Linked DNA regions of Homo sapiens. The protein of the gene in region 1 interacts with the protein of each later gene in a pairwise test. Each region holds a gene or a part of one and is shown in the gene's direction. Other genes may lie near its edges.

Region 1 (7,047 bases):
GGCTTTCATGTCATTAAATTTTTTTTTGTTTTTTAATGAAAGCTTTTTTGTTTTGTTTTTACAAAAGCAATGCTTACTCACTGCAGAAAATAAACATGCAAAAAGAAGCACATAAAAGAACCCATCAGCTCATCTGCTAGTTTGCCATTTATTGATCAGGACTAACTAGATTCTTCCTCTTGGAAAATTTCCAAGATTGATTCCCTCCGCCTCCAAGTTCAGAGCAGGATTTGGAAAAGTAAATATTAATAATGTACCTAGATCTGATTTTTAAGAGGTTCCAGGATGAAATAGAAACCATTTTTCTATACAGCTGCATTTTCTGATGGCTCTTGGTTCAGTGTGGAGCCCAAAGTCCTCCCATATAGCTTTTTCTGTCAAGAATTTAGCAGTTGCTTGGTGGGTTTTGCACAAGTTACTTTTCTATATCAAAATGGATACCAATAATAGGTTTTTGAAAACTTAATAAATATTTGTAAAGTACCTAATATGTAGCTAAATCAATAAATATTTGTAAAGTACCTACTATGTAGCTAGAACTGTGCCTGGGTACTGTACGGAGTGCCAATGAAGGAGGACCTGTCCTAAATTTATAGTCTTATTAGCATTAGTGCTCTAGCTGTGCCAGTTTGACTTTGTAACTTTATAACTCTATCCCAGCTTCACCCATAACCTTTTAAAAACAGCAGCTTTAGAATAAGTACAGAAAAGGATTCTTAGAGGCTATATATTGGTCTTTTTCATAGAGATTAAATTATGCTGGTGTTTATTTGGATGAATTGTAACTGACCAGACAACTTTCCGAAGAGAAGCTATATGATTTAGAGGTGTTATAAAGTGGATAGTGGGTGAAAATCCTTTCTTTATATAATTGCCTAATTATGGTCCTTTTGTGATATCATAGATTTCAGGATTCTTCTGTGGTTATTGATTCTTATAACTAGCTTGACTTCTGTTTTTTGGTTTGTTTGTTTGTTTTTTTAGGGTTCAGAATTTTTTTTTTTTAGGTTTGAGGCTTTTCTGGGTGGGAAAAACCTCACAGAAATATTCTTAGTGTATGTTACTGGTAGGAGCCTCTCCCTTCCACACGTTTACTGAATGCCTATTGTGTCCCAGCCACTATATTAGGTGAAAGGGACAGAGGAATGGATAAGACAGATGAGGTTCCTGCTCTCATGGAGCTTACATTTTAATGGGAGAAGAAAGCTCAACAGATAAATAATATAATGTCAGATAGTGATAAACACTATGAAGAGGCCGGGCATGGTGGCTCACGCCTGTAATCCCAGCACTTTGGGAGGTCAAGGTGGGCAAATCACCTGAGGTCAGGAGTTCGAGACCAGCCTAGCCAACATGGTGAAACCCCATCTCTACTAAAAATACAAGGGCATGGTGGCCAGCACCTGTAGTCCCAGCTACTCGGGAGGCTGAGGCAGGAGAATTGCTTGAATCCAGGAGGTGGAAGTTGCAGTGAGCCGAGATCATGCCACTGTCCTCCAGCCTGGGGGACAAGAGCAAAACTCTGTCTCAAAACAAAACAAAACAAAAACACTATGAAGAAAATTACACAGGTAATGAGAAAGGAGAATGAGTAGATGATAGGAATGGGTGATGGTGGATGATCCTTCTTTATATTATGTGGTCAGAGGGCCTTCCGTTATCGGGTGACATTTGGGCAGAGACCTGGGTGTTGGCAGGAGGCCAGCCATGTGACCATCTGGGGAAATAGGAATAAATCTTATCATTTGCAAAATCTTAGGTTACTAGCCTATTTTCCACGCTTTTTTGTTTCCCCCTAGTTTTAGTCAAGTCTCTCCTATGGTAGCAGTCTCTAAGAGCAGAGACGATCTTATGTACTGTTACTTCCCATTGCCTACCTAGCATAGGGTCTGGTACATGGTTAACCCGTAGTGAATTTTTGTTGAAGATATTCATTGGTGGGCACTAGGGATATGGTGGTAAACTAGACTCATTTAGTCTCCTTTTTCTTCCATGAATTTTAAATGATGTTTTGCAAGAAGTTCTTTTGGATTGAAAACTTCAAGATCAGTGCTAAGCAGTACGGATAATTATACAGTAATTTACTAATGTATAATCCCATATAATAATGCTAGTTTCTTACCTGTACTCCTTCAGATATACCTCCGTAGTCTCGAAGGGGGTAATATGGAGAATTAGGAGTTCCTTGGTGAGGAGAGTTAGGTTTTCACAAAGTTAGGTTTTCTCTGAGAGAAAACAAGCACTAAGATTTTTCTATAGGCTTAACACATTTCATTTAACTGATAACTTTGATTTCGAGGTTCTGCCAAATTATTCTAGTTATAATAGAGATACTGTAAAGGACTGAAAAATTCTGAACCCTAAAAAAAAACAAAAAAAAAACGAAAAACAGAAGTCAAGCTAGAAGATAAGAAAGGACAGGCTTGTTAGTTTGTTAGTCATTGATTATCACATCTGATAGGGTTATAGATATTCAAATATGTCCCAAATACCAGATTAGTTTGTTAGTCATTGATTATCATATCTGATAGGGTTATAGATATTCAAATATGTCCCAAATATCAGATTGTCACATCTGATAGGGTTATAGATACTCAAATATGTCCCAAAAGAACAGCTTTCTTCCCCTATATCTTTGGGTAGATTTTGTCTATAACCAAGCATTATTTCGTAGCACTGGAGCTGATTTAAATGACCCTTGATGCAGGAAGGCTGCTCTTCTTTCTGTAGTGCAAAAGTATTCTGATCATAATTTCTTATTAAAGTGATCAGAGATCCCCTCAGACCCAAAAGTATACTTTATAAGTACTTGTTGGTATCCTGCTGTGCATTGTGAAAGAATTCTGGAGGTGTGCCAAACACTGCTCAACAATAAGCACTTTCCATTAGTTGAGTAGTGTTGAATCTTGTTTCCTTACCCACTCTTTGGCCTTAACAAATTAAGTCATTTTATAGCTTAAAAACATATTTTTATTAACTTTTAATACTCTTTTTCATGTGTTCAACATTCTTACTTTAAAATCATATTGCTTTTCTCCTTTAAGAAACTTACCAAAAGCAAGGGTATAAAGTAACTGAATGCAATGAGTGTACCTATTATTAGGAATTATAAAGGAGAAACAGTTAATCTGACTTAAACTTGTAGGAAAACCATCACTCTGAATAGAAAACAAAGATAAATAGGTACCGTATGCCTCTGTGTCCTGTATTTTAAAAAGACCTTTTGCTCAACATCATTCTAAATTCATGAGTTTGAGGACAAGAGTCCAGAATTTAATATGATGAAAGTAAACATAAAGCTAAAACTTGGGAAGGTTCCCTTTAGGTGCTGTGTTTACTAAAAAGGAGACTTGTAAATTGGTATCTAACTTGTTTGGCAAATTTCTTTTAGCTCTGAAGGGTTTATATGCTTTCAAAGAACCTATTGGAGAAATATGCACTATAATTCTAAACAAGGGTAACTTGCCCAAAGTCTCACAGCTAGGAAGTTGGACTGCCAGATTTGAGTTCTAGCTCTTCCACTCCAGGAATGGGGACTCTTAATCACTTCATTATATAATCAATCCATTGTATCTTGGATCATTGTTTGGTTTCTTTTTATTGGTTTTGTTTTATTGCTAGCATTATGTTCTTCCCCCACCCCTAATTTTGTGTGTTTATGTTTTCAGCTATACTTTGGGTCAAATAGACTTGCAAAAACCTAGCCACTTTTTGCAGTGTCATACACTTGGGGAAGTAAGGTCTGTGTTCTCTGTGAGAGGTTTTTTTTTTTTTTTTTGACAGGGTCTTGTTCCATTCCCCCAGCTGGAGTGCAGTGGAGTGATCTTGGCTCACTGCAACCTCTGCCTCATGGGCTCAAGCGATCCTCCCATGTCAGCCTCCCGAGTAGTTGAGACCACAGGCATGCACCATCACACCCAGCTATTCTTTTGTATTTTTAGTATAGATGGGGTCTTGCCATGTTGCCCAGGCTGGTCTTGAACTCTTGAGCTCAAGTGATCTGCCCCCCTTGGCCTCCCAAAGTGCTAGGATTACTGGTGTGAGCCACTGCCCGGTCAAGGTCTGCATTCTAAAAGAATTTACAAATGACCTTTTTGGAAAACAGGATTGAGAGGATATTTGACTTTGAGAACGGTTGATTTTGAGGCATACCTTTTTCTTTTATTTAGAGAATAAACTCTCAGCTCTAAAATTACACACTCTAGAATATATTCATCTATGGTTTTTTAATGTCATAAAGCCTTTTAAAAATTGGGTATTGTAAAATCAAACACAGCAATAAGGATGGAAATTGCTTGCTAGATACTTTTTAATAAAGTGTAAATATTTCAACTGTAAACTTACCTTTTGGGAAAAGCTCTGTTCCTAGCTTGACATCCATGTCAAAATTTATTGAAGTGAAACCCAACATGGGGTTTGAGGGAATATCCAGAAGACTGATATGTTCAAGATTTGGAAGAGCTAAAGGACTGGCCTCTCTGTAATTAGATTAAGCTATGTTTTGGGTCCCTATTGCAGTGTGTTTTCACCTTGATATAATTAATCAGTATTTATTGAAAATCTAATATGCATTCAGCACTACTTGGAATGATAGGAGATAGAGGAAAAGTAATACACATGGTGTCCCCTACCATGACACTCATGATAGATGACATTCATATAAAAGACACACTGCTAGGGGTTGTGGGATACATCAGATCATCTGATCAAGGGAGCATACTGGAGTTCAAACGAGTGACAGAAATGTTATCTAAAGGGAATCTTGAATCTATCCATATATATCATTCATTCACAGACTTGGTACTTTTTTTATTAGTAACAAATTACTTACTGTATACTATAATTTACCATGGCACACCAGTTTGTTATGAAGTGACAGTTGAAAACTGCTGTGTTGGAGCTTATGACAGTAGGAGGGACAGGATTTACTGCTATAAAATAACTGAATAATTCAGGATAATGTAAAATATACTGAAATGGGATGTGCATTATTACTGCTCCTTGAGGGCTTTTATAGTCAGGGAAAGCTTTGTGGAGAAAATGGCTACTGAAAAAACAGATAGCATATCAGCCCAGGTTCTTAATTGCAAGGAAGAGAAATACAATCTGATTGATTTTAAGCAGAAAAGAATTTATTAAAAAGAACTGGGATATAATGCATACCCTTTGGCCCCACAGTTTCATTCCTAGATATACAGCCAACATACACGCATACATGTGTTTACTAATATGTGCAAGAATGTTTGCAGCAGTGTTTGTAATAGAATCACACTGGAAACTAAATGCCCATTAAAGGTAGCATAGATAAGTAGTTTTTTTGTTTGTTTGTTTTTGTTTTTTTTTGAGACAGAGTTTCATTCTTGTTGCCCAGGCTGGTGGAGTGCATTGGCATGATCTTGGCTCACTGCAACCTCTGCCTCCCGGGTTCAAACGATTCTCCTGTATCAGCCTCCTGAGTAGCTGAGATTACAGGCATGTGCCACCATGCCCAGCTAATTTTTATATTTTCAGTAGAGGTGGGATTTGGCCATGGTGGCCAGGCTGGTCTCGAACTCCTGACCTCAAGTGATCCACCCTCCTTGGCCTCCCAAAGTGCTGGGATTACAGGCGTGAACCACCCCACCTGGCCTGTATTCACCTGATCATAGAAGGTTATACAGCAGTGAGCACAGACTGCAATTATGCATAACATGGGTGAATCTCACAAAACCTAAAATTGAGGAAAGAAAGCAGACACAAAAGAGAGCATAGTGAATGATTTTATTTATATCAAGTTGAAAAATGGATAAAATTAATCTATAGTGTCAGAAATCAGGATAATGGTTACCCTTGGGAAGGGAATAGTAACCCTTGGGAAGGGAAAGGGAAATAAGGAGGGCTTTGGAAGTGTAGTTGACCCTTGAACAACACAAGTTTGAACTGTGTGTGGATCTACTTATACATGAGTTTATTTCACCTCTACCACCCTGAAGACAGCAAGACCAACCCCTCCTCTTCCTCCTCCTCGTTATGATTTTTTTTTTTTGAGACGGAGTCTCTATCTGTTGCCCAGGCTGGAGTGCAGTGGCGCGATCTCAGCTCACTGCAACCTCTACCTCACAGGTTCAAGCGATTCTCCTGCCTCAGCCTCCCAAGTAGCTAGGATTATAGGTGACCACCACCAAGCCCAGCAAATTTTTAGTGGAGATGGGGTTTCACCATGTTGGCCAGGCTGGTCTCGAACTCCTGACCTCAAGTGATCCGTCTGCCTCAGCCTCCCAAAGTGCTGGGATTATAGGTGTGAGCCACCATGCCCAGCCCTCCTTATGATTTTCTTAACATTTTCTTTTCTCTAGCTTTATTTTCAAAACACAGTATGTAACACATATATAACATACAAAATATGTGTGAATCGACTGTTTATGTTGTTGGTAATGCTTCCAGTCAACAGTAGGATATTAGTAGTTAAGTTTTGGGGGAGTCAAAAATAATATGCAGATTTTCAACTGTGCAGTGGGTCAACACCTGTTAATGTTCTGTTTCTTGACACAGGTGGTTTTGGTTTGTGAAATTATTTGAGCTGTAGACTTAATGTTACGTGCACTTTTCCCTTACATCTGTTATACTGTGCCTGTTTCTGTACATATGTTACATATCAAATGTTTATTAAAGGGGTATATTGGGTAACTCAGAATTTCTGGTGCTCCTGGCTATATATACCAAATCCCAGTTCAGGATTCAACAACCCAGATCATGCTGCTGAACTGCACTACCACTGCCAAGTGTGAAATTGAAGCTTGCTCTGCTGGCCTTGTTGCCTGGGAGCTTGATCCTGCTTCTGTTACTCCACACCTGTCTCCCTCCCTGTTCCATTCCTGGCTCCATTTGCAGCCCTCCTTTCAAAGTGTGGGGTGGATACCTTTGTTAGGCAGAGCCTAGCACAAGTGGTCCTCCTTACTGCAAGGGAGTCTGGGAAAGCAAGTATCCAGTGTTTTCAGCTTTTATAGTGGGTGGTGATTTCTGCCAGAAATTGTAACAAGGGGACAAGGGGTGTTTCAGATTTGGGGC
Region 2 (3,142 bases), on another chromosome or scaffold:
AAAACATTCTGTTCTTATGGTTTAGATTCCGTTGCCAACTCGTCCCCATTGGTTTCTTCTTTTTGGTACTACAGAAGAGGAAATCCAGGAAATCTGCATAGAAACACTTAGGCTTTATACCAGAAAAAAGGTATTCTCTATTTACTCGTTTGTGCCAACATGCTAAGAGTCCAAGCTACTCTAAGGAAGAAATACTAACTTTTTTTTCCTCCAACAGCCAAACTATGAATTACTGGAAAAAGAAGTAGAAAAAAGAAAAGTAGCCTTACAAGAAGCCAAATTAAAAGCAAAGGGATTGAATCCGGATGGAACTCCAGCCCTTTCAACCCTGGGTGGATTTTCTCCAGCCTCCAAGCCATGTAAGATGTATTTAGAATTAAAATGACTTGGGGGCACTGAAAGTGTGTCTTTATTAGAGAGCTTTTACATTTGAAAGTTGCATAGAGAAAAATGATGTTAGGAAACTGCTGCTATGTTCTCTCATGGCAGTCAACCAACATGGAAGCGGAAGCATGGTACTTTGAGTTACATTTAGAAACAACTTTTGGCCCTCTGTTAAATCCAGTAGTTAACATGTTGTTATTATATCTTTTAAAAGCATCACCAAGAGAAGTAAAAGCTGAAGAGAAATCACCAATCTCCATTAATGTGAAGACAGTCAAAAAAGAACCTGAGGATAGACAACAGGCTTCCAAAAGCCCTTACAATGGGTGAGTATACTTGGGCTGGAAAACTGGCTTGAGGAATCTTTTATGTGTTTACTTTTTAACACACTAAGTTTGTAACTAATATGTCATGATTTTTTGAAGTGTAAGAAAAGACAGCAAGAGAAGTAGAAATAGCAGAAGTGCAAGTCGATCGAGGTCAAGAACACGATCACGTTCTAGATCACATACTCCAAGAAGACAGTAAGTAAATGTTTTCTTAGGGAAGCAGTCTTATTTGGAGTTTTTAAAGGTTATTGCTTTTTCTTTAAAAATTGAACATAGATTATTTTCAAAGTTAGGTTAGAATTAGGCTTTTAGTATGAGGCAAATTATGAGAAATGAGTTTGGAGATGTTCTGGACATACAGTATCTTAATGGCATTCTGTTATATTTTCTCCCATGTTTTTTGGAGAAGTGTAGGAGCTACCCACAAAGTGCTTGAGGGCCATAGTATTGTTCATAATGTGAAAACTTCTTTTTTTTTTTTTAATTTCAGTTAGAAAATGTGTTTCATTAACCCCTTATTAATAACCAATAATCAAATTAACCAGTCAATGAATCTTCTTTAGTTAGGCCTGTAATTAGATTGTTAGCTCTTCGTGGCTCTTCAATGTCTTTTGAACATGTGGGAGATACTTAATAAAAAGCATAGCTCTAGGACACTATAAAAATTGCTAATTACTCCCCTTGGAATAAAGACATAAGAACATTTGCTTAAGATTTAATATGTTATATATAGGCTTGGGCATACAGCAGTGAGGGGTGGGGAGATTTTGAAAAGTTCTGGTTTGTCATTTATGTAGCTGGTAGTTTTGTTTTGAACCTGTTATGAGCAACCACCGGAATAATCTGTTCCCCATAGAAACTGAACCTAAACTTCAAATTTTTATTATCTAAGCTATAATAATAGGCGGAGTCGATCTGGAACATACAGCTCGAGATCAAGAAGCAGGTCCCGCAGTCACAGTGAAAGCCCTCGAAGACATCATAATCATGGTTCTCCTCACCTTAAGGCCAAGCATACCAGAGATGATTTAAAAAGTTCAAACAGACATGGTCATAAAAGGAAAAAATCTCGTTCTCGATCTCAGAGCAAGTCTCGGGATCACTCAGATGCAGCCAAGAAACACAGGCATGAAAGGGGACATCATAGGGACAGGCGTGAACGATCTCGCTCCTTTGAGAGGTCCCATAAAAGCAAGCACCATGGTGGCAGTCGCTCAGGACATGGCAGGCACAGGCGCTGACTTTCTCTTCCTTTGAGCCTGCATCAGTTCTTGGTTTTGCCTATCTACAGTGTGATGTATGGACTCAATCAAAAACATTAAACGCAAACTGATTAGGATTTGATTTCTTGAAACCCTCTAGGTCTCTAGAACACTGAGGACAGTTTCTTTTGAAAAGAACTATGTTAATTTTTTTGCACATTAAAATGCCCTAGCAGTATCTAATTAAAAACCATGGTCAGGTTCAATTGTACTTTATTATAGTTGTGTATTGTTTATTGCTATAAGAACTGGAGCGTGAATTCTGTAAAAATGTATCTTATTTTTATACAGATAAAATTGCAGACACTGTTCTATTTAAGTGGTTATTTGTTTAAATGATGGTGAATACTTTCTTAACACTGGTTTGTCTGCATGTGTAAAGATTTTTACAAGGAAATAAAATACAAATCTTGTTTTTTCTAAACTGCTTCAAATACCTTATTTAAATAAATTATTAAAAAGGAAAATTTTAATAGCAAAATGGCTGTACTGGTTTTCTGACAAACTTATTCTTTCCTCCATTAGATGGTAGTTTGAGATTATTAAAATGCAATTCTTAACTGCATTGTGAGCTATTGTAAGTCTTCACTGTATATATGGAAAAAGTAAATGGGAGTCGCCCAACAATGTGACATTAAATGTTATATTTTAGCACTAAACCAAAAAACCTGATTTGCTTTTGAATGGTGTCATAAGGTAATTTTGAGTCAGATTTAAGTACTATTTCTGAAATGAGGTACCCTATTGAATGAACCAAAACTTAGTAACTATTGAGCTTTAACAGTTCTGTATAATTTAGGCATTTAATGTTACGATTTTTACGTAGGCTAGGAGAAAATGTGAGGCCCCTGAACTTGAGTGGTTGATAGAATACAAGCTGATCACAAAGAAGTGAAGTTTTGATGAAAAAGCCGGAATTTCTATCCAGATGAATGTTTTCAAGTTACTCACATTTACTATTTTTTTCAACATTTTGGAAATCAGTTTACAGAGTCAAAATGTTGCATCGCTTTATAATTACACTAAGGTCTCCATTACATTTATTTTACCTACTTTAATTGTCCACTAGACTTGGCTCCAAGTGATTTGTTGCTGTTTCAAGAAATAAAATACACCCACAAAGAGGAAGATGTATTACTGCTAAGGATATTTTTAAAAATAAAGTTA
Region 3 (7,117 bases), on another chromosome or scaffold:
GCCCTTCTGACTTAATTACTTCCCCAAATGCCTCACATCTTTTAACACTGTCAACGTTGAGGATTAAGCTTCAACATATCAATTTGGGGGACACAGACATTGAGACCATAGCTCACCCCTACCTCACCATGCCATGGGAGATACCTACCTGGTTGCCTCCTTTTATTTATTTATTTTTTTTCTTTTTGTGACTGGGTCTCACTCTGTTGCCCAGGCTGGAGTACAGCGGCAAATCATGTCTCACTGCAGCCTCGATGTCCCAGGTTCAAGCAATCCTCCCCACTAAGCCTCCCAAGTAGCTGGGACCCACAGGCATGAGCCATCACACCTGGCTAATGTTGGGTTTTTTGTGTTTTGTTTTTGCTTAGACTGAGTCTCGCTCGTCGCCCATGCTGCAGTGCAGTGGCATGATCCCGGCTCACTGAAGCCTCCACCCCAGGTTCAAGCAATTCTCCTGCCTCAGCCTCCCAAGTAGCTGGGATTCCAGGTTCCCACCACTGTGCATGGCTAATTTTTGTATTTTTAGTAGAGACTGGGTATCACCATGTTGGCCAGGCTGGTCTCGAAATCCTGGCCTCATGTGATCCACCCACCTCAACCTCCCAAAGTGCTAGGATTACAGGCGTGAGCCACTGCATCTGACCTGGCCACCACATTTTAAATGGAACCTCTTGGCTGGGCGCGGTGGCTCACATCTGTAATCCCAGCACTTTGGGAGGCTGAGGCAGGCGGATCACGAGGTCAGGAGATCGAGACCATCCTGGCTAACATGGTGAAACCCCGTCTCTACTAAAAATGCAAAAAAAAATTAGCCAGGTGTGGTGGCGGGTGCCTGTAGTCCCAGCTACTTGGGAGGCTGAGGCAAGAGAATGGCGTGAACCTGGGAGGTGGAGTTTGCAGTGAGCTGAGATCGTGCCACTGCACTCCAGCCTGGCCGACAGAGCAAGACTCTTGTCTCAAAAAAATATAGAATTAAACTAAATTAAAAAATAAATGGAACCGCCCAGCCCATCCCCTACCCACCTGTCCTGCATTTTTTTTCTCCTTATCACTGTCTCACCACTAGAGGCCAGCTCCACCAGGGCAAGGGTTTTTCCCTGCCTGCCACTGTATGCCGAGTGTCCAGAACAAAGCCTAGCACAAGGTGGGTATCCCAGAAATATTTGTGGGATGAGGCCGTGCGTGGTGGCTCACACCTGTAATCCCAGTGCTTTGGGAGGCTCAGGTGGGAGGATTGTTTGAGGCCATGAGTTGGAGACCAGCCTGGGCAACATAGTGAGACCCCATCTCTACAAAAAAAAATTTTTTTTTTTTTTTGAAACAGTCTCCCCCCTTTCGCCCTGGCTGGAGTGCAGTGACAACGATCTCAGCCCACCGCAACCTCCACCTCCCCGGTTGAAGTGATTTTCATGCCTCAGCCTCCCAAGTAGCTAGGACCATAGGCGCATGCCACCATGCCTGGCTAATTTTTATATTTTTAATAGAGACAGGATTTTGCCTTGATGGCCAAGCTGGTCTCAAACTACTGGCCTCAAGGGATCCACCCGCCTCAGCCTCCCAAAGTGCTGGGATTACAGACATGAACTACCAGGCCCAGTCTCTACAAAAATAAATGTTTTAATTAGCTGGGCGTGGTGGTGCACATCTGTAGTACTGGATACTTGGGAGGCTGACATGAGAGAATCGCTTGAGCCCAGGAGTTCGAGGCTGCAGTGAGCTATGATTGTGCCACTGCACTCCAGTCTGGGCGACAGAATGAAACTGTCTCAAAAAGAGTAAATGAGACCCCGAGAGTTGGAGCAGTGCCCCCTAGTACACAGAAGAGACAGGGCTTTGACACCCCCTATCTCTGGTGTTCTTGGCCCTCAACACAGGAAAAGAAAAAAGCCATCCAGGAGGAGGAGGAGAGAGACCAGGCCTTGCAGGCCAAGGCGAGCCTGACCATCCCGCTGGTGCCCGAGACGGAAGATGACCGCAAGCTGGCGGCTCTGCTGAAGTTCCACACCCTGGACTGTGCGTAGGAGGCCAGGGGGAAAAGGGGACAGGGAGGCTCAGAGTTGCCTGGAGATGGGGGGTCCTCAGCCATGAGTGGACTCTGGTCTACCAGAGGGCAGTTCTGGACCCCCTCCCCTGCCGCCCCTGAAATGTCCTCTCCTCTCCTCTAGCCTACGAGGACAAGCAGAAACTCAAGCGGACCGAGATCATCAGCCGCTCCTGGTTCCCCTCTGCCCCCGGATCCGCCTCCAGCAGCAAGGTCAGCGGCGTCCTGAAGAAGCTGGCACAGAGCCGCAGAACCGCGCTTGCCACCTCCCCCATCACCGTCGGGGACCTGGGCATCGTGCGGCGGAGGTCTCGGGACGTCCCGGAGAGCCCCCAGCATGCGGCCGACACCCCCAAGTCTGGGGAACCGCGGGTACCAGAGGAGGCTGCCCAGGACCGGCCCATGTCCCCCGGAGACTGTCCTCCGGAAACAACTGAGACCCCCAAGTGCAGCAGCCCGAGGGGGCAGGAAGGGAGCCGTCAGGACAAGCCCCTGTCGCCAGCAGGCTCCTCCCAGGAGGCAGCTGACACCCCCGACACGCGGCACCCCTGCAGTCTCGGCTCCTCCCTCGTGGCGGACTACTCCGACTCGGAGAGTGAGTGAGCGATCCCCATCCTGGAGACTGGACCCGCTCTAGAGGCCCGGACACACCCAGGAGGCCCCTCACAGACTGCAGACCCCCGGCTCGCCCACCAGCCCTGGGAGAGCTCAGATGCCGCATCCTCCCCAGACCGCGCCTTCCTGCAACCGTGGAGTTATTTATTTGGTCCTGGTGAGGGTGTTTGTGCCTTGTGAGACTCCGTACATTAAAGACCTGTCTCTTCTTCCCTGTCTTGGGTTGTTAGATGGACCCTGGGGCTGCCCCCCCACCCCCCCACCTTGACCAAGCTTGGTAGGCCTCTCATCAGCAAATGCTGGTATAGGGTCATAGCTGTGACCACAGACATGGTCCCCTTCCAGAGTAACAAGAGTCTCAAGGTGGTGGTCCCGGTTGGCCAGGAATCAGGACAGACTTCCTGGAGGAGGAGGCATGGGCCAAGTGTGAAGGGTGAAAAGGGGGCCAGGAACCACACACACAAGGCCAGGGACAAGGCACACGGGGTACCCAGGATGTGTGCCAGATGCAGCAGGGGCTGGAGCACACAGGTGTGAGCTTTTTATTATACCCAGCCCAGGGGTGGCCCATGGAAAAGCCCCCCGTGCATGTTACTTTTGGGGTTTTTTTGTTTTGTTTTTGAGACCGAGTCTTGCTCTGTCACCCAGGCTGGAGTGCAGTGGCGCGATCTCGGCTCACTGCAACCTCTGCCTCCTGGGTTCAAGTGATTCTTCTGCCTCAGCCTCCCGAGCAGCTGGGACTACGGGTGTGCGCCACCACGCCCAGCTAATTTTTTGTATTTTTAGTAGAGACTGGGTTTCACCATGTTGGCCAGGCTGGTCTCGAACTCCTGACCTCAAGTGATCTGCCCGACTCGGCCTCCCAAAATGCTGGGATTCCAGGCGTGAGCCACAGCGCCTGTCCTGCATGTTACTTTTGAATGAAACCGAGCAGAAAATGGCCCAGAAACAGCCTTGCATCCATCAAGGGGCACACGACCCCCCACTACCTCCCCCTCAACCTTGGAAGATCATTTAACAAATTCTTTGGTTTGAACACTTGATGTTACCTTGCCACTGGGGATACATCCCTAACTCTAGACAGCAGGTTGTTAAACACGGGGCCTGGTATCCACTAGGCGTCCCATAAATGCTGCCACTTTTGTGGTTCCGAGGAGGCGGCTCACTCCGTTCGGGCTTGGCAGGAGTCGTGGAGTGGGTTCGGCCACGTGGAATCCGCGTCCTGGGAACCCGTGGAATCCGCGTCCTGGGAACCCGTGGAATCCGCCTCCTGGGAACCCGTGGAATCCGCCTCCTGGGAACCCGTGGAATCCGCCTCCTGGGAACCCGTGGAATCCGCCTCCTGGGAACCCGTGGAATCCGCCTCCTGGGAACCCGTGGAATCGGGTTGGATGCGCATGTGCGTGTCTCTTTTTCCGGGGGAGGCTCCGCCCACGGCCCCGCCCCGCTCCCAAGTGCGCGCGGACCCCTAGCTCCCTCTGAGTTGCGCTGGGCTTGGCTGCTGCACCATGACCCTGGAGGCGATCCGCTACTCGCGGGGCTCCCTGCAGATCCTAGACCAGCTGCTGCTGCCCAAGCAGAGCCGCTACGAGGCGGTGGGCTCGGTGCACCAGGCCTGGGAGGCCATCCGCGCCATGAAGGTGCAGCGGGGCGGCGGGGCGGCGGGGCGGCGGGGCGGCGGGGCGGCGGGGCGGCGGGGCGGCGGGGCGGCGGGGCGGCGGGGCGGCCGGGTTGGAGGTGGGAGTGCGCCCGCGCCTGCAGCTTCCGACGCCCAAATCCCTGCCCCGCAGGTGCGGGGCGCCCCGGCCATAGCCCTGGTGGGCTGTCTCAGCCTCGCCGTGGAGCTGCAGGCGGGCGCCGGGGGACCGGGACTCGCCGCGCTCGTGGCCTTCGTGCGCGACAAGCTGAGCTTCCTCGTCACCGCCCGGCCCACCGCTGTCAACATGGCCCGCGCCGCCCGCGACCTGGCTGATGTTGCAGCCCGGGAGGCCGAACGGGAGGGCGCTACGGAAGAGGCGGTCCGGGAGAGGTACGGGGATCTGGTACCAGGCACGGCGCTGAGCAGGAATTATATTGACTCTTTTTAAGTACAGTGACCCACTATACAGATGGGGAAACTGAGGCACGGCGACCTTAAGTCCCTTGTCCAGGGCCCCACAGATGGGGAGACTGAGGCACGGCGACCTTAAGTCCCTTGTCCAGGGCCCCACAGATGGGGCCCAGAGTCTAGCCTGGGCAGCCTGGCCCTGAAACCTAACTCCTTAATCGTGCCTCCCCTGAATACACGCAGCCCCTTATCCGCCCTTGGAGGCCCTTTTTAGTATCTCCGTGTTCTCTTGGTTTCTGCTTTTGAGGAACTTTTTTTCCTGTCCTGGTCCCCTTCCTGCCATCTTTTTCCCCCCACTTCCTTTCTGCTCCAGCCCTCCCTGCAATGTCACTTTACCCCACCAAGCTCGAGCCTGCCTTACAGCCTTTGCACGTGCCATTGGTGCGGGCCAGGTATCCATAGCGCCCTCCTCCACCATTCTATATGATCCAGCTCACCCGCTGCTCTCTGTTGCCTGATTCTGCCGGCTTTTCCTTCATTTTATTATCTCTTCATCAGCTGGCTCACTCACCCCAGTGTCAACTCCACAGGAGCAGAGATTTTTGTCTTGTTTACTGCTGGGTCATACCGGAACTGCTTGGTAAACATGTCTTTGCATGAATGAACGGAGTGACACTTCGGTGGCCCTGGCCGAAGGGTCCAGGCCCCACAGCAATGAGAGGCTTTGAGCAGGAGGGCTCCAGGACAGCAGCGTTAGGCAGAGAGGAGGCGTTGGCCTGGGCCCCGGGTCCTGGTGGCTGGTGCTGAAAACTCCTTGTCACCCCAGAGTGATCTGCTGCACCGAGGACATGCTGGAGAAAGACCTCAGAGACAACCGAAGCATTGGGGACCTAGGAGCCCGCCACCTCCTGGAGCGGGTGGCCCCCAGCGGTGGCAAGGTGACTGTGCTGACCCACTGTAACACTGGTGCTCTGGCCACCGCTGGCTATGGTACAGCCCTAGGTGAGAGGGCCTCCTCAGGGGGTAGGGGAGGGCCTTCTAGGAACTTTTTTAGATACAAGAGAAAGAATCCCAAACCCAAACCACTTTATCCACAAAAAAAATGGGAAGGTACTAGTTCTAGTACGGAAACACTTATACAGTTGGCTTCAGGTATGGCAAGATCAAGGGGCTCAACCAGTAGCATCAGGACCTATCTATCTCTGTGCTTCAGCTCTGCCCTCCTTCATCTTCAGGTTCCATGGGCTGGCAGGCGGCTGTTAGGGTCCAAATCATGAGGAAAAGAGCCTCCTATACTAGAAAAGTCTCCTTGTATCTCAGGGGGTCCACTAGGGCACCTGCCCATCCCAGAGCAGTCATTCGATGGGCCCCGCCTGAGCCATATGCCTAGAGCCAGGGCAGGACGTGGACTCCAGGAGGAACTGGGGAGAAGGGAGTGAGCAGAGAAAGATTAGGTAGCTGTGACCAGGAGACAGGGGGAGTGGGCTGTAGGGGGCCAAGGCAGCAGATTCCACTTGACCCTAAATTCACCAGGAAATTTCCCTACCTGCCTGAGTCCCACCTTCATCCCTGGGAACTGAGGCCTTAATGGAAAGACCTCTGCCTTTGATTCATTCACTCACCCAGCATTTAGTAAGCACCTGCTGTGGCTCAGACACCGCCATTTGCTGGGGACGCAGCAGTGAACAAAACAGACAAAATCTCTGCTCTCAGGGGTCCCAGGGAAGCAGAAGGAACAGTCAACAGGCAAAATAAGTACAGTCATCCTTCAATATCTGTGGGGGACTGGTTCCAGGACCTCCCACAGATACCAAAATCCATGGATGCTCAAGTCTCTGATATAAAAATGCCATCATATTTGCATGACCTATGCACATCCACATATATATATATATATATATATATATATATTTTTTTTTTTTTTTTTTTTTTTTTTTTTGAGACAGAGTCTTGCTCTGTCGCCCAGGCTGGTGCAGTGGCATGATCTCAGCTTACTACAACCTCTGCTTCCCGGGTTCAAGAGATTCTCATGCCTCAGCCTCCTGAGTGTCTGGGATTATAGGCGTGAGCCACTACGCCCAGCTAATTTTTATATTTTTAGTAGGGACGGGGTTTCACGACATTGGCCAGGCTGGTCTCGAACTTCTGACCTTAGGCGGTCCGCCAGCCTCGGCCTCCCAAAGTGCTGGGATTACAGACGTAAGCCACAGTGCCCAGCCCACCCCTATATTTTAAATCGTGTCTAGATTGCATATCATAGCTAGTCCCATGTAAATACTATGTAAATTGTTGTTACTGGCTAGGTGTAGTGGCGGTGCAGGCCTGTAATCAGGAGGCTGGGGTGGGAGGATTGCTTGAACTCAGAAGTTCTAGACCAGCCTTTGCAACACAGCAAGACCCTGTCTCTATTTTTA
Region 4 (7,047 bases), about 73 Mb from region 1:
ACTGCTGCATGAATTTTCATAGCACCATTATTTCATAACAGACAAAAAGTTAAAACAACCCAAATGTCCATCAACTCGATGAAATGGGGTATATCCATACAATTATTTTTTGCCCATAAAAAGGAATGAAGTTCTAATACATGCTACAACATAGAGGAACCTGAAGAACATGCTAAGTGAAAGAAGCCAGACTCACACAGCCACATATTGTTGTAATTCCACTTATATGAAATGTCCAGAATAGGCACATCAATAGAGACAGAAAGTAGATTAGTAGTTGCTTGGGGCTGGAGTTGGTAACAGGGAGTAACTACAAATGGACACAAGATTTGGGGTTGGTGGTGATGAAAATATCCTGGGATTAGGTAGTGGCAATGGTTGCATGACTGTAAATATATTGAAAACCATTGAAATGTACACATTAAACTGGTGAACTTTATGGTATATAAAATATATCTTAATAAAGCTATTTCTGTCATTTCAGTGAATGAATATAATGACCATGCTGTAATGCACGTAGTAAAGTGTTTAAAGACACATGTATAAAAGATGCTTTGTACAAGTGCTATTTGCTTGCCACAATGAGAACAGTGCTATCTCAATTTTTTATTTTAAATTTGTAAAGATAAAAATATTTTTTAAATGGGCATAATAAAACCTCTCTATCACCTTCCGTGGTTACAGTGGAAATAAGTGAGATGTATGCAAAGGCATTTTGTTTAATAGAATGCGCCAGACATATGTTTTAGAAGAAAACAAATAGGTATCTGGTATCTGACTGGCACCTTTCTTCTTCTTTTTTTTTTTTTTTTTTTTCCCTGAGACTGAGTCTTGCTCTGTCGCCCAGGCTGGAGTGCAGTGGCGCGATCTCGGCTCACTGCAACCTCCACCTCCCAGGTTCAAGCAATTCTCTGCCTCAGCCTCCTGAGTAGCTGGGATTACAGGTGCCCGCCTGTAATTTTTAGTAGGGATGGGGTTTCACCATCTTGGCCAGGCTGGTCTTGAACTCCTGACCCATGATCCAACTGCCTCAGCCTCCCAAAATGCTGGGATTATAGGCGTGAGCCACCGCGCCCAACCCTTTTTTTTTTTCAGGGTCTCACTCCTATCGCCCAGGCCGGAGTGCAGTGGCACAATCACGGCTCACTGCAGCCTCAACTTCCCAGGCTCCCACCTCAGCCTCCCTAGTAGCTGAGACCACAGGTGTGCACCACCACACCCAGCTAATTTTTGTATTTTTTGTAGAGACAGGGTTTCGTCATGTTTCCCAGGCTGGTCTTGAACTCCTGGACTGTAACAGTCCTTGCGTCTTGGCCTCCCAAAGTGCTGGGATTATAGGCGTGAGCCACTGCGCCTGGCTCTTCTTCTTCTTTTTTTTTTTTTTTTTTTTTTTTGAGAGGGAGTCTCGCCCTGTCGTCCAGGCTGGAGTGCAATGGCGCGATCTTGGCTCACTGCAACCTCTGCCTCCTGGGTTCAAGCAATTCTCCTGCCTCAGCCTCCCAAGTAGCTGGGATTACAGGCGTGTGTCACTGCACCCGGCACTCTTCTTCTTTTTTTTAATGGTAATATTATTGTACGTTTTTTGTTGTTTTACAGTCTAGCTGGAGTGCAGTGGCACAATCGTGGCTCCTTTTAGCCTCGACCTCCTGAGCTCAAGTAATCCTCCCACCTCAGCCTTCCGAGTACCACAGGCGTGCACCACCACACTCTGCTAGTTTTTTTATTTTTATTAGAGACGAGGTCTCACTATGTTACCCAGGCTGGTCTCAAACCTTTGAGCTCAAGCGATCCTCTTGCCTCAGCCTCCCAAGGTGCTGGGATTATAGGCATGAGCCACCATGCTCAGCCCAAGTTTTATCTTTTAAATTGCAATTTTTATTAACACATTGTAGTTGTACATATTTGTGGGGTATAATTTGATGTCTTTATATATGTTGTATAGTCAAATCAGGATATTTAGCATATCTGTCATCTCATGCGTTTATCATTTGTTTATGGTGAGAACATTCAAAAGCCTCTCTTCTAGCTATTTTGTAAAATATAATACCCTTCTGTTAACTGTCGTCACCCTGTGCAATGGAACACCAGAACTTATTCCTCCCAATTATAACTTCGTACCCATTGACCAGCATTTTTCACCACCAAAATATATAGATCTCCAGCTATAAATACCACAGAATTACCTTTTTTTGAAAAGAGTTGGATTTTATGGCAGTTTCCTAAAAGGTATTATATTTTTCATATAAGTACCCAATTCTTACCTATGCATTATCTTTTATTTTGAGTAATTTATGTTTATATTTGTCTCTACATTCTATAAACATTCTATAAATTTGACCTGAGAAGATCTGTTTTTAGCTTCCCAATAATAGTAGTTTGATGTCACTTACTCATTCCCTTGAATAGAAAATCATTTGCTTTTTCTTCCCATATCTTTAACAGTTATTAAACAGCAAAAGAGTACTGTGCCCAACACTTTAAATCTTTTACTAAAGAATACCTTTTACTTTGTTTTTCAAACGTCTGACTAGTTTCTTAGCCAAGTGATAACAAAAGGTACCCAGGTAAAAGTACATCTTGAACTTTCATCATCCTCATTTTCGAGAGGCTTCAGTGTAATATAACAAACTTTTCTGATAGTGGTGTTAAAAGCCGGGGTGGACCATCTTAGGAGCTTCTTATCTGGAAGAATTCAGTAAGTGGCTAGATTACCACTTAATTGGAAAGTGGAGGGGGAGGTGTATAGAGTGGGGGATGGAGGCAGAAAATCAGGTACTCTCGAGGAAATTCAAGCAATAATAAATGTAAGGCTGGATTAGATGATCTTAGAATTATATTTCATCCCTGGAATTCTTTATCATATGAAATTAGTTTAAATGAAATATGGAATATGCCCCTTTAAAACTTTGACAGTTGCCAGTATCCTCTTAGGTGTTGAATTTCTCAATCTAAGATGATCTATTGGGCCTTTGCATTCTTTTTGTCTTTATTCATATGTAAGAATTAACACTTGGCTTTAACCATAAGAATTCCCAATATTTCCTTAGAAACGAATCTTCCCTTACTTTCCCCACTTCCTCTACATAAACACATAGATGCACTCATGCATTTTAAATCTTTGGGCAGCAGGGTGCAGTGGCTCATGCCTGTAATCCCAGCACTTTGGGAGGCCAAGGTGGGCGGATAACTTGAGGCCAGGAGTTCAAGACCAGACCAGCCTGGCCAACATGGTGAAACCCCGTCTCTACTATAAATACAAAAATTAGCCAGGCATGGTGGTGCACACCTGTAGTCCCAGCTACTCGGGAGGCTGAGGCAAGAGAATCGATTGAACCCAGGAGGCAGAGGTTACAGTGAGCCGAGATCACGCCACTGCACTCCAGCCTGGGCAACAGAGTGAGACTCTGTCTCCCAAAAAAAAAAAATTAGGCCTGGCACAGTGGCTTATGCCTGTAATCCCAGCACTTTGGGAGGCCGAGGTGGGCAGATCATTTGAGGTCAGGAGTTTGAGACCAGCCTGGCTAATTGGTGAAACCCCGTCTCTACTAAAATACAAAAATTAGCAGGACTTGGTGGCGCACGCCTATAATCCCAGCTACTCACAAGGCTAAGGTGGGAGGATCACTTGAGCCTGGGAGGCAGAGGTTGCAGCGAGCCAAAATCGCGCCACTGCACTCCAGCCTGGGCAACAGAGTGAGACCCAGTCTCAATCAATCAGTCAGTCTTTGGAAGGAAAGCTGTAACATTGTAACCATAACAAATAGTAATTAAGGCTAACTGAAGCACAGGAGTATAGTAGTCATGGGCCAGGTCCTTCCCCCTTTGCCCCCCCCTATGAATAGTCAGTACATACTGCATAGTAATGCTTAATAAATGTGTTAAATCTATGACTGAATGGCAGAATATTATAAACTTAATTTCAGATTGTCTGTAACCATATTGTTCAATAGAACTTTCCACAGTGGGCCAGGCACAGTGGCTCACACCTGTAATCCCAGCACTTTGGCATGCTGAGGCGGGCGGATCACCTGAGGCCAAGCATTCGAGACCAGGCTGGCCAACATAGTGAAACCCTGTCTCTACCAAAAATACAAAAAAATTAGCCAGGTGTGGTGGCAGGCACGTGTAGTCCCAGCTACTTGGGAGGCTGAGGCAGGAGAATCACTTGAACCCTGGAGGTGGAGGTTGCAATGAGCCGAGATTGTGCCACTGCCCTCCAGCCTCAGCAACAGAGTGAGACTCTGTCTCAAAAAAAAAAAAAAAAAAAAAAAAAACTTTCCACAGTGATGGAAATGTTTTATGTCTGTGCTGTCTAGTGTAGTTAAAATGTGGCTACTGTGACTGAGAAACTAAATTTTTTAATTATACATAATTTTAATTAAATTTAAGGCTAAGCGCAGTGGCTCACACCTGTAATCCCAGCACTTTGGGAGGCTAAGGCAGTCAAATCACTTGAGGTCAGGAGTTTGAGACCAGCCTGACCAACATAGTGAAACCCCATCTCTACTAAAAATACAAAAATTAGCCGGGCATGGTGGCACATGCCTGTAATCCCAGCTACTCGGGAGGCTGAGGCAGGAGAATTGCTTGAACCTGGGAGGCAGAGGTTGCAGTGAGCCGAGATTGCACCACTGCACTCCAGCCTGGGTGACAAAGTGAGACACCGTCTAAAAAAATTTTTTTAAAAAATGAAATAGCCACTCATGGCTACTTGGCCACCAAGTTGGACAGCTCAGTTCTATAACAACAATTTCACGGGGCATGGTGGCTCACACCTGTAATCCCAACGCTTTAGGAGGCTGAGGCTGGTGGATCACTTGAGCCCAGGAGTTCAAGACCAGCCTGAGCAACATAGATTCTCTATTTTTAAATATTTTAAAAAATTCTTTTTGAGATAGGTTCTCACTCTGTTGCCCAGGCTGGAGTACATTGGTGTGATCTCGGCTCACTGCAGCTTGGACCTCCCGGGTTCAGGCAATTCTCATGCCTCAGCCTCCCAAGTAGCTGGGACTACAGACATGCACCACCATGCCCAGAAAGCTTTTGTATTTTTAGTAGAGACAGGGTTTCGCCATGTTGCCCAAGCTGGTCTCGAACTCCTGGCCTCAAGTGATCCACCTGCCTTGGCCTCCCAAAGTGCTGGGATCACAGGCGTAAGCCACTGTGCTCTGGCCTAAAATTTTTATGTTTAAAAAAAAAATTCAAGAAGTTAGGTTACTTAGATATTGGAATTCCTATGACTTTTTTAGAACCAGTGGATGCTCTAGCAATAATACTCACTTTGTGTGTTTTCTTTTGTTTGTTTAGAAACATTTTCTGAGCAACTGCTTCTTCAATAGTTAATGACGATGCAAAATGAAAGACACAGCTTCTGTTTTTAAGATCTATCCCTAAGGACTTGACAATTGTTATAGGTACAGTGTGAAAAGTACCATTTTAAAAGCATTCATAGGGTGATGTGGGAGACACAGAGAAGAGACTACATGACTGTTTACAGGAGCCCAGGAAAGCATCTCAGAAAACTTGATGCTTGAATGCTTGAGCTGAAACCTCAAAAGGAGTGTTTGAATTATTTTTGGCCTCTGTGTTTGCTGTTTTCTGTAAGAACAGGTTTCTTGGGTTACTTGTAAAGCATCTGTTATGGTCAGTTTAGGACTAACTTTCTCCCGGTCTTTCTTTTGCTTCCTACAAGCTATCAATTTAGGTCCAGAAACATAGGTCTCTCCCTTTTCCTCCAACTCTGCTACCTTGACACCTATTTTCTTCCTACAGTGCTCTATAAAAAGCTGCATCACTGCCTTCCACGTCACCTGTGCCTTTGAGCACGGCCTAGAGATGAAGACCATCCTAGATGAGGGAGACGAAGTGAAGTTCAAGTCATATTGCCTCAAGCATAGCCAAAACAGGCAGAAACTTGGAGAAGCTGAGTACCCCCACCACAGGGCTAAAGAGCAGAGCCAGGCCAAAAGTGAGAAAACCAGCCTGCGGGCACAGAAGCTTCGGGAGCTGGAGGAGGAGTTCTATTCCTTGGTACGAGTGGAAGATGTGGCCGCAGAGCTGGGTATGCCCACGCTAGCTGTGGACTTTATCTATAACTACTGGAAACTGAAGCGGAAAAGTAACTTCAATAAGCCATTATTTCCTCCAAAGGAGGATGAAGAAAATGGGCTGGTGCAGCCAAAAGAGGAAAGCATTCACACTCGAATGAGAATGTTTATGCATCTACGCCAGGACCTGGAGAGGGTAAGGTGACCAGCTGTGACTAGTATATAGGCCTCGGTCTGTGTAGAAATGGAGGTCCCACTTCTGGTTTAATAATGGTCAGTCAGCTCATAATAGTGTGGGCTTCTGTGTCCTTGCTTATCTTCTGATCTCTTTATGGCCCCAGACATTGGGCTCTGTGTAAATTCTGACAGGCACATCCAGGGGATTTGGGAGGCCTCGGGTATATGCTCTATGAACTTTACATTTGAAATAAACTCTCATTTGGTTTACTTTTTATTCACTGTTGAGCCTAAATTGGCCCATCCATATTTTACTGACATATTTATGAGACTTTAGGCTGAAGAAAGAGTGAATTTTGTTCAGGAAAACACCAAATTAGAGTTTCACAAACTTGGCACTGTTGACATTTTGGACTGGATAGTTGTTTGTTGTTAGGGGGCTGTCCTTTGTTGTAGGGGCAATTTAAGATGTTTACCAGCATCCCTGGCCTCTACCCACTAGATGCCAGTAGCACCCGCACACACACCCCCAGCGTGACAACCAAAAATGTCTGCAAATTACCAAATTTGCTCTCCAGTTGAGAGCCACTCCACATGATAATTCAATATAACTCATGGTATATTTATCAGGTATCTACTAAATGAGATACTGCAGGGCTTCAAAGGTAAGTTAAGCCCTGTGTTTATCCTAGAGAATTTTCTAATTAAATGTAAATCTATAAATGGCTTGTGTTTTTTTTTCTCTGCTACCAGAATTTGAAAGAGAACTAATAGATTTGGCTCACTTTTAAAAATTTAAGACACTCACATATAGCACCTACTA

What was found.
Region 2: the proteins of LAMP2 (region 1) and CCNL1 interact in binary tests that used the Homo sapiens proteins (3 or more experiments, as listed by UniProt).
Region 3: the proteins of LAMP2 (region 1) and MRI1 interact in binary tests that used the Homo sapiens proteins (3 or more experiments, as listed by UniProt).
Region 4: the proteins of LAMP2 (region 1) and JADE3 interact in binary tests that used the Homo sapiens proteins (3 or more experiments, as listed by UniProt).

The regions. Positions count from the first base shown.
Region 1 is NC_000023.11:120,459,251-120,466,297, reverse strand, and holds part of LAMP2 (lysosome-associated membrane glycoprotein 2 isoform A precursor), read left to right. Parts: intron 1-7,047. UniProt on the Homo sapiens protein: Lysosomal membrane glycoprotein which plays an important role in lysosome biogenesis, lysosomal pH regulation and autophagy.
Region 2 is NC_000003.12:157,147,053-157,150,194, reverse strand, and holds the end of CCNL1 (cyclin-L1), read left to right. Parts: intron 1-25; coding exon 26-130; intron 131-217; coding exon 218-359; intron 360-598; coding exon 599-710; intron 711-809; coding exon 810-908; intron 909-1,605; coding exon 1,606-1,954; 3' UTR 1,955-2,642; downstream 2,643-3,142. UniProt on the Homo sapiens protein: Involved in pre-mRNA splicing. Functions in association with cyclin-dependent kinases (CDKs). Inhibited by the CDK-specific inhibitor CDKN1A/p21. May play a role in the regulation of RNA polymerase II (pol II).
Region 3 is NC_000019.10:13,760,425-13,767,541, forward strand, and holds the start of MRI1 (methylthioribose-1-phosphate isomerase), read left to right. Parts: upstream 1-4,097; 5' UTR 4,098-4,164; coding exon 4,165-4,296; intron 4,297-4,446; coding exon 4,447-4,685; intron 4,686-5,529; coding exon 5,530-5,705; intron 5,706-7,117. Other genes in the region: probable splicing factor YJU2B, read left to right, coding at 1,875-2,013, 2,166-2,644.
Region 4 is NC_000023.11:47,048,386-47,055,432, forward strand, and holds part of JADE3 (protein Jade-3), read left to right. Parts: intron 1-5,772; coding exon 5,773-6,243; intron 6,244-7,047. UniProt on the Homo sapiens protein: Scaffold subunit of some HBO1 complexes, which have a histone H4 acetyltransferase activity.